Homo sapiens: one gene and its partner. The protein of the gene in region 1 interacts with the protein of each later gene in a pairwise test. Each region holds a gene or a part of one and is shown in the gene's direction. Other genes may lie near its edges. The genes, in order: STK36 and FRMPD4.

Region 1 (7,536 bases):
TAAGTTTCTAACACGTGAGTTTTGGAGAGGACAGAACATTCAAACCATAGCAACACTTTTTATTTATTTTTTTTATTTTTTTGAGATGGAGTTTTGCTCTTGTTGCCCAGGCTGGAGTGCAACGGCACGATCTTGGCTCACTGCAACCTCTGCCTCCTGGGTTCAAGCGATTCTCCTGCCTCAGCCTCCCAAGTAGCTGGAATTACAGGCATGTGCCATCATGCCCAGCTAATTTTGTATTTTGAGTAGAGATGGGGTTTCACCATGTTGGCTAGGCTGGTCTCAAACTCCTGACCTTAGGTGATCTGCCTGCCTCGGCCTCCCAAAGTGCTGGGATTACAAGCTGGAGCCACCACACCCAGCCTATAACAACACTTTTACCCCAAATTCATCAGTTGTAAAACTTTTGTCTCATTTGCTTTACCATCCTCTCTCTCTCTCTCCCCCTATGGACATAGCATCTTTCTGAATCATTTTAGGGTAAGTTGTACACATGCCCCTTTACCCCTAAATACTTTAGCGCATATTTCCTAAAACAAGATCCTTCACTTACACTAACACAGTACAATTATGAAAGTCAGAAATTTAACATTGATATAATACTGTTATAATAGATTAATTAAACTAATCTGTAATCCTTATTCAAATTTTGCTAATTGCTTCAGTAATGTGCGTTATGAAAATTTTTTTTCTGCTCCATGATCCAATCCAGTATCACACCTTGCTTTATTTATTTATTTATTTATTTATTGAGCAGGGTCTTACTCTGTTGCCAGGGTGGAGTGCAATGATGTGATCTCGGCTCACTGTAACCTCCGACTCCTGAGCTCAAGCAATCCTCCTGCCTCAGCCTTCTGAGTAGCTGGGACTACAGGCACCTGCCACCATGCCTGGCTAATTTTTGTGTTTTTTTAGAGAGAAGGTTTCGCCATCTTGTCCAGGTTGGTCTTGAACTCCTGGACTCAAGTGGTCTGCCCGCGTCAGCCTCACAAAGTGCTGGGATTACAGTGAGCCACTGTGCCCAGCCCACACATTGCATTTAGTTGTTATGCCTCCTTAGTCTCCTTTAATCTGGAACAGTTCTTGTCTTTCTTTGTATTTTATGACTGATAGTTTTGAGGTACACGTCAGTTATTTTGTAGAATGTTCCTCAAATTGATTATTTCCTAATGAATAGATTCAGGTTGTATATATTTTTGGTAGGAATACTACATAAGTGATACATCCTCAGTACCTTAATCTTTTTATTTATTTATTTGAGACAGTGTCTTATTCTATCACCTGGACAACAGGGTGGACTATAGTGGTGCAATCATGGCTCACTGCAGCCTTGAACTCATGGGGTAAGCAATTCTTTCATCTCAGCCTCCTGAGTAGCTGAGACTACAGGTGTATGGCACCATGCCCAGCTATTTTTTTTTTTTTTTTTTAAGATGGAGTCTTGCTCTGTTGCCTGGGCTGGAGTGCAGTGGCACGATCTTGGCTCACTGCAACCGCCGCCTCCCAGGTTCAAGCGATTATCCTGCCTCAGCCTTCTGAGTAGCTGGGGTTACAGGTGCCTGTCACCATGCCCAGCTAATTTTTGTATTTTTAGTAGAGACAGGGTTTCACCATGTTGTTCAGGCTGGTCTCGAACTCCTGACCTTGTGATCTGCCCGCCTCGGCCTCTTGAAGTGCTGGGATTACAGGCATGAGCCACTGCACCAGGCCTATTTTTATTTATTTATTTATTATTATTATACTTTAAGTTTTAGGGTACATGTGCACAATGTGCAGGTTAGTTACATATGTATACATGTGCCATGCTGGTGCGCAGCACCCACTAACTCGTCATCTAGCATTAGGTATATCTCCCAGTGCTATCCCTCCCCCTTCCCCCACCCCACAACAGTCCCCAGAGTGTGATGTTCCCCTTCCTGTGTCCATGTGTTCTCATTGTTCAATTCCCACCTATGAGTGAGAATATGTGGTGTTTGGTTTTTTGTTCTTGTGATAGTTTACTGAGAATGATGATTTCCAATTTCATCCACGTCCCTACAAAGGACATGAACTCATCATTTTTTATGGCTGCATAGTATTCCATGGTGTATATGTGCCACTTTTTTTTTTTTTTTTTTAAAGAGACAGAGCCTTACTATATTGCCCAGGCTGGTCTTGAGCTCCTGGCCTCAAGCAGTCCTCCTACCTCGACCTCCCAAAATGCTGGGATTACAGGTATGAGCTAATGTGCCCAGCCTCACGATCTTTTTTTTTTTTTTTTTTTTTTGAGACAGAGTTTCACTCTTGTTGCCCAGGCTGGAGTGCAATGGCACGATCTCAGCTCACCGCCACCTCCACCTCCTGGATTCAAGCGATTATCCTGCCTCTGCCTCCCGAGTAGCTGGGATTACAGGCATCTGCCACCACACCCGGCTAATTTTGTATTTTTAGTAGAGATGGGTGGGGTTTCTCCATGTTGGTCAGGCTGGTCTTGAACTCCCGACCTCAGGTGATCTGCCTGCCTCAGCCTCCCAAAGTGCTGGGATTATAGGCGTGAGCTACTGCGCCTGGCCTTTTTTTTTTTTTTTTTTTTTTTTGAGACAGAGTCTCACTCTGTCACCCAGGCTGGAGTGCAGTGGTGACATCTCGGCTCACTGCAAACTCTGTCTCCCGGGTTCAAACAATTCTCCTGTGTCAGCCTCCTGAGTAGCTGGGATTACAGGCATGTGCCACCACACCCAGCTAATTTTTGTATTTTCATAGAGAGGGGGGTTTCACCACATTGGCCAGGCTGGTCTTGAACTCCTGAGCTCAGGTGATCTGCCAGCCTCGGCCTCCCAAAGTGGTGGGATTACAGGTGTGAGCCACGCACCCGGCATTCACAATCTTTTTAATAACCTCATCGTATTTTCTAATATGGATGGACCCTGGTTTATTATTCCCTTAGTGACTGACTTTATGATCTTTTCCTTTTTAAAATTATTACAAACCATGCTGCAGCGGACGTCTTTCTAGGTATCTCTTTATGCACACATGCCGGTGTTCTCCAAGAGACTCTTCCAGACCCCTCACAGACTGCCAGCTGTACCTTTTTTAGCAGGTGACTGAAGATATACATCTGTGCTAAAGGGGTCACTGGCTCCTTGCAGTTACTTCATGATTCCCCATGGTTTCTACTGGTTGGGATCTACTACCTTAGACTTACACACTACTCCTGACCCCTTTCACTCCCCTCTGCCTCAGGAGCCAGACAGTGACAATGAGTGGCAGCACCTGCTAGAGACCACTGAGCCTGTGCCTATTCAACTGAAGGCTCCTCTCACCTTGCTGTGTAATCCTGACTTCTGCCAGCGCATCCAGAGTCAGCTGCATGAAGCTGGAGGGCAGGTAATGGGGAGAAAGACACTGTGGATGGGATCAAGACTGTTTTCACAGATGGAGCATTGAAATACACTGACTTCAGGAGAAAGAGAAAGTTTGTCCTTTTCCAGTTCTTCAGTCTATCTGCTTAGTTTGAGGAGGTTTACCAACCTCCTTTAGTAACACAGAAAGAGCAGCCCTCAGGTTTCTTTTTCTGAAGGGAAAAATGCCTACTAGAATAGGGATCAAACTTTTTTGATGATAAATATTTTAGGCATTGTGAGCCACCAGGCAAAAATGGAGGATATTATGTTAAGTACTTACATAATGAGGGAAAACACATTTTCACTAATTTTTTATTGATGAAATTAAAAATATAAATGTAACAATTAAATATACAATATTTTGTACTACAGGTACACTAGTGAGAAGAATGAGGTTATTTTGCGGGGGAGAGGAATGACATTTTGCTTAATTAGCATTCAAAGTTAGTGTAAAGTTAGTGTTCCCTCCTACAAAACCTTACTTTGCTCCTCTGAAACACAGTGCTTTTCCTTCCTGGGTACTCGCCAAACTGTGTTGCTTATATCACTTTATTCAGGTATAATTTATGTATAAGATTTACACTTTTTTGATGAATGATAAATGATTTTTAGTAAATTTGCTAATTTAAAAACTGTTAACCATAGTTCAGTTTTAGAACATTTTCATCACCCCAGTAAAATCCCTCATACCCATTTACGGTTTTTTTTTTGAGACGGAATCTCACTCTGTCACCCAGGCTGGAGTGTAGTGGTGTGATCTCGGCTCACTGCAACCTCTGCCCCGCGCAGGTTTAAGCAATTCTCTGCCTCAGCCTCTGGAGTGACTGGGATTACAGGCTCGTGCCACCACGCCCGGTTAATTTTTTTGTATTTTTAGTAGAGATGGTGTTTCACCATCTTAGCCAGGCTGGTCTTGAACTCCTGACCTTGTGATCCGCCCGCCTCAGCCTCCCAAAGTGCTGGGATTACAGGCGTGAACCACCGTGCCCAGCCTTTTTAAAATTTATTTATTTATTTATTTTTAATTTTTGAGATGGGGTCTCACTCTGTCATCTAGGCTGGAGTGTTGTAGCACAATCTTGGGTCACTGCAGCCTCTGCCTCCCTGGTTCAAGGGATTCTCATGTCTCAGCATCTCAAGTAGCTTGGATTACAGGCGTGCACCACCATGCTTAGCTAATTTTTTGTATTTTTTGTAGAGATAGGGTTTTACCATGTTGCCCAGGCTGGTCTGGAACTCCTGGGCTCAAGTGGGCTCAAGTAATCCTCCCACCTTGGCCTCCCAAAGTGCTAGGATTATAGGTATGAGCTACTGCCCCCAGCCCCCATTTACAGTTAATCATTATTCCCCTTTTTATAGCTGGTTAGTATTCCGTTATATGGATATATCACATTTTGTTTATCCACTCACTAGTTGATTAGATATTGATGTATTGGGTTGTTTCCACTTTTTAGCTTTTATGAATAATGCTGCTATGAACATTCACAAGCAAGTCTATGTATGGATAAATGTTTTTATTTCCCTTGGGTAACTACGTAGGAGTAGAATTGCTGGTCATATGGTAAATTTATATTTAACATTTTAAGAAACTGCTGAACTATTTTCCAAAGTGGCTGTACCATTTTACATTCCCACCAGTATTATATGAGGGTCCTTGTTTCTTCACATCCTTGTCAACACTTGTTATTGTCTAACTTTTTTACTATAGCCATTCTAGTAAGTGTGAGATAGTATCTCATTGTTATTTTAATTTACATTCCACTAATGATGAATGTTGAACATCTTTTCATGGCTTATTCACCATTTGTATATCTTCTTTGGTGAAATATCTCAAATCTTCTGCTCAGTTTTTAATTTGGTTGTTTGCGTTATTGAGTTGTAAGACTTCTTTGTATATTGTCAACATAAGACCTTTATCAGATGGGTGATTTGCAAATATTTTCTCCCAGTCTGTGGTTTGTCTTTTCATTCTTTCTCATAAGAGTGTCTTTTGAAGCAAAAAATGTTGAATTTTGATTTAAGTTCAGTTACTGTTTTTTCCCTTTGTGGTTCATACTTTTGATGTTGTGTATAAGAAATCTTTTCCAAATGCAAGGTCTTAAAGATTTTCTCTTTTCCTAAGTTTTATAGTTTTAGCTCTTACATGTAGGTTTCTGATCCATCTTGAGCTAATTTTTGTATATAATGTGAGGAAAGGATCTAAGTTGATCGTTTTTGCATGTGGATATATAATTGTCCTGGCACCATTTGTGGAAAAGAACTCTCCTTTCCTCATTGAATTGGCTTGGCACTTTGCACTTGTCTTTTGGCGCTAACACGTTTTCCTCCTAGTGTTGGATAACTTGCAGTGTGGGGAGGCAGACTGAAAGCTCTGCCTTTAGGGATAAGACTCCCTCTGGTGGAATTCCAGCTGCACTACTCATTAGCTGCGTGATCTTGGACTACTTACTTGACTTATGCAGAAGCTTCAGTTTCTTCATCTATAAAATGGCTAATTCTATTTATTTCACAGGGTTATTGTAAATATTAAATGAGCAGATGCCAACATTTAGAACAGCTAATGGAATATTATAAAATACTTGGTGTAAATGTTCTTCTTTTGAAGAATAACCATTTAAAAATACAATACTGGCCAGGCATGGTGGCTCACGCCTGTAATCCTAGCACTTTGGGAGGCTGAGGTGGGAGGATCACTTGAGGTCAGGAGTTTGAGGCCAGCCTGGCCAACATGGTGAAATCCCATCTCTACTAAAAATACAAAAATTAGCTAGGTGTGGTGGTGGGCACCTGTAATCCCAGCTACTTGGGAGGCTGAGGCAGGAGAATCACTTGAACCCAGGAGGCAGAGAGGTTGCAGTGAGCCAAGATTGCACCATTACACTCCAGCCTGGAGGACAAGAGTGAAACTCTGTCTCGAAAAATAAATAAAGGGCAAAAATAAATAAAAATATAATACTATCCTTAGCATGCAGGCTGTATACAAATAAATGTTAGGCTGGATTTGACCTGTGAGCCATAGTTTGTCAACCCTGATCTAGAGTTGAATAATGTTGTTTTGTCTTTCTGTGGTTAAATAATATTGTTTTATATGCATTGTTTTGAATTTTCAGAAGCATGTGCGGTGCACGTGTTTTTTGTTTTTAAGGTGAAGGGCTGGAGAAGGGAGGGAGCAGATGGGAATGGCACTTAGTCTGACAGAGATCCTGAGGAGAGGCCCCTATCCGTTGGTCACTGGTGTTCTGTGTTAGGTAACCTGACCATCTATTGTCTTCTTCCCTGGTACAGTTCCCCTATTTCCCTGCTTTCCTTCTCTGTGTTTTAGACTTGCAAAGAAAGGAATGCAAGCATGTGGTCTGCTTTCCCAGCTCCTTGGGGATGCTTGGTATGTGTAGTTCTCCTTCTTTTACCTCTGAAAATATCAATCGTTGCCTCTTTCCCTCATGTCACCCAGATCCTGAAAGGCATCTTGGAGGGTGCTTCCCACATCCTGCCTGCATTCCGGGTCCTGAGCAGTCTTCTCTCCAGCTGCAGTGATTCTGTTGCCTTGTATTCCTTCTGCCGGGAGGCAGGGCTTCCTGGGCTGCTGCTGAGTCTACTCAGGCACAGTCAGGAGAGCAACAGCCTCCAGCAGGTAAGCACCAGGCCAGAAGCCTCTGAAGACTTACAGAGGTTCTTTTTCTTGGATTTATCTCATTCAGATTGCCATCTCTCTTTGGTCTGACTGCCTTTTATTTTCTTTCCTCCTCTTTCTAGTTAGTAGACTATTAATTGCAAACTCTAATGCCTTCTGGGGCCAGGCAGATAAGGTCTGCCATGAAGTAGGCTATGCATGTGACTATATGAGTTGTGGGGAATATGATGAACTAGAGTTCACATGCCTCCTCTAAATAGAGTAGAGGCATCCTTTCCTCAGCCTCCAGCCCATTGTTGCCACAGGGAAATATGGGCCTGAGAAAACTAGCCAGATCTTCTAGTTTTCTAAGAAAAGGTAGAAACCCAAATTTTTATGTGTAATTTTTAAATATTTAGAGCGCTGTGCTTTGAAATGTTAGATCCTAGGCTTCATTGACCTGATCTTACAGAGCAGAGTACTAAAATTCAGAGGTAACTCATACACAGTCACTAATTTGTAAATGGTCACAGAGATAACAAG
Region 2 (2,551 bases), on another chromosome or scaffold:
CTGGGGCTACAAATTGGTGGGGATGGATTCTACTGTGTCAGCACAAATGCTCTTCACAGTGGTTCTAGCATTTAAAAAACTTCCCGGGGAGAAGAACAGAGGGGATGATGGGCAGTTTCCTAGGTAACACCTAGAGTTATAGAATATCTCATTACATAAAATGTATGGAATTAATAATACCAAAATTAATTATTTGATGGAAAGATCTGCTTTGACTAAATGTCAAAAATCTGCAAACCAAAGACATTATCTTCCCCTCATCCCAACTCAACTACGAAACTTAAAATTCCCTTTAGAGTGATAGGACATTTAGTAAAGTATTTGCAAACTTAAAAAAAGGAACATTTAATGATCATCAAAATTAAGTACAGATTCAGTAATGTAGACCAGACCACACACCAGCACCTGTGAGTCTCATCTCAGATCACAGCTCTCAGCATAGGGCTTCATGCATCACCGCCTCTACAGAGGCTAAGGCTGCCAGTCAAATTTGGAATTATAGCGTAGTACTGGGACAAAATCTCAAATCTTGGATGTTCCAGAAAATCAGGGAGAGATGGCTACTGTAATCATGGGAGCCATGAGTAAATAGTTAAGTATTTATTAAATAAATACTTAATCTGGATTGGCTGATAAAAATATGAAATCTGAAAAAAAAAAGAAAGAAATGGAAGTGGTATATTTGACCAGTTCAAGTGAAACCAATGGAATGCAAAGAACTTTCCAGGACTGTCACATCTCTAAAAGTACCCTGCAGTCATAAAATAAAATCGATATGTATATATGTATTTCCTGGGTCATTCAGTGCTCAAGTTACATGCACTCCTACTTAGACAGGTGGCTCCTTAAGAACATGATGGGAGTACACCAGGTGCAAATATTTCTACTTTTGTAGCCTGCTGAGAAGGAGTCATAACACAGTCCACAATTGCAATCTCTCTCTAGTCAGCCATTCCACAGGGACTCAACAACAAAAGCCGCACGTGGTTATGGATGGCAGCAAAGGAAAGGAGTTTAGGTGTGTGTTATTATAAATAATGTTTAACTAAATAATAAAACATTATTTCATTACAATTATAATTATAAATATTGGTGTTTTGATATTGAGAGATATTAGTGGTGTTTACTGTGGAAAATCTTAGTAAATATCATTCTGTGTACTAAAATCCTAACCTATTAATAGGATGTGTGCCCTATGTCAGACAGTGTGCTAAGCATATTAACTATATTATCTCATTTAATCATCACAACAATCTGCTGGTTTGGACACTATTCTCTCTGGAGGCAATATGGATGAGTTCTTACGGATATGGGGTTTGGGGTCAGAAACATCTTGATTAAAATTTTGACTCTGCCATTTTCTAGCCCTTTTATGTTGGGAAAGCTACTTTTTCTAGTCTCAATTTCCTCATAATAAAATGAAAATCAATTATAAGATCGATTTCCATAGGGTTGTCATGAGTTTTGAGTAAAAATGTGTATGTAAAGTTCTTACCACAATACCTGGCAGAGAGTAAGTATTCAATTAATGTTAGCTATTATTATCATCATAATCGTTGTGTTAAATATATTGCCCAAGATAATATGTGGGGGAATGTTTGTTTTATATGCATATTGTATCCTGACTGTGTGCAGAACACATTATGTGTATTGCATATATGTAAAAGAAGTGTACAAGGAAGTGGCCATCCTTGTTCAAGTTACGTATCTAGTTAGAACAACTTCCCAGTCCATTGGAGTTCTTTGAGAAGCCTCAGGGAAGTAGCTCTGGGTCCTTCTAATCAACCTCCCATTACTGCGCCAGTAAGTTTCTGTTTCTTATAAATAAACTCTTTGCTATTCAGAAAACCTCAAGGGGCCCCCACATTCACTAAGCATGGGGCTCCTAACTGGGGTCCAGGTCCATAGAGTGTAGGAAGAACATATTAGAACAATACTTGTGCTTATTTTTATCTAGCTTTTTTATGTTTGTGTATGTTTTATAATGGCATAATAGTACAATGGTACATGTACATAATTTTAAATAAATAAATGAATGAATGAATAAATAAGCATATGCCTGGTGCATGCATGTGACAATATTGTCGCAGGTAGGGTTGCATTCACTGAAATCTGGAGAGCACTGAACTGGAGAATAAACCTTCCTTATACTCACGGTTCTTTATGTTTAGTCCCCAGTCTACTTTGCCAAGTTTATCTCCTACCATTTTTATTAATCTTTTATCACAAATCTTTCAAACAAAAGTAGACACAATCGTATGAATTCATGTGGACTCATTACCTACCGATTCATGTCTAATCTTATTTTCTGTATTTCTACCCACCTCCTCTCCCACTGTATGATTTACAAGCAAGTCCCAGACATCATAGTGCTTAGCCCATGAATATTTCAGTAAGAATATCCTGTGAGAACTTTTAAACATAACCACAATGACGTTTTTGCATTTTAAAAATTGGGAATTCCTTAATATTATCAAATAAACATTACAGAAATAAATGATGGAGAAAGTAATAATCCCCTTAAACCCAACTTCCAAAGATAACCATTGTC

What was found.
Region 2: the proteins of STK36 (region 1) and FRMPD4 interact in a two-hybrid assay, tested with the Homo sapiens proteins (one study listed by BioGRID and IntAct).

The regions. Positions count from the first base shown.
Region 1 is NC_000002.12:218,681,863-218,689,398, forward strand, and holds part of STK36 (serine/threonine-protein kinase 36), read left to right. Parts: intron 1-3,222; coding exon 3,223-3,366; intron 3,367-6,834; coding exon 6,835-7,014; intron 7,015-7,536.
Region 2 is NC_000023.11:12,722,473-12,725,023, forward strand, and holds the end of FRMPD4 (FERM and PDZ domain-containing protein 4), read left to right. Parts: 3' UTR 1-2,051; downstream 2,052-2,551. UniProt on the Homo sapiens protein: Positive regulator of dendritic spine morphogenesis and density. Required for the maintenance of excitatory synaptic transmission. Binds phosphatidylinositol 4,5-bisphosphate.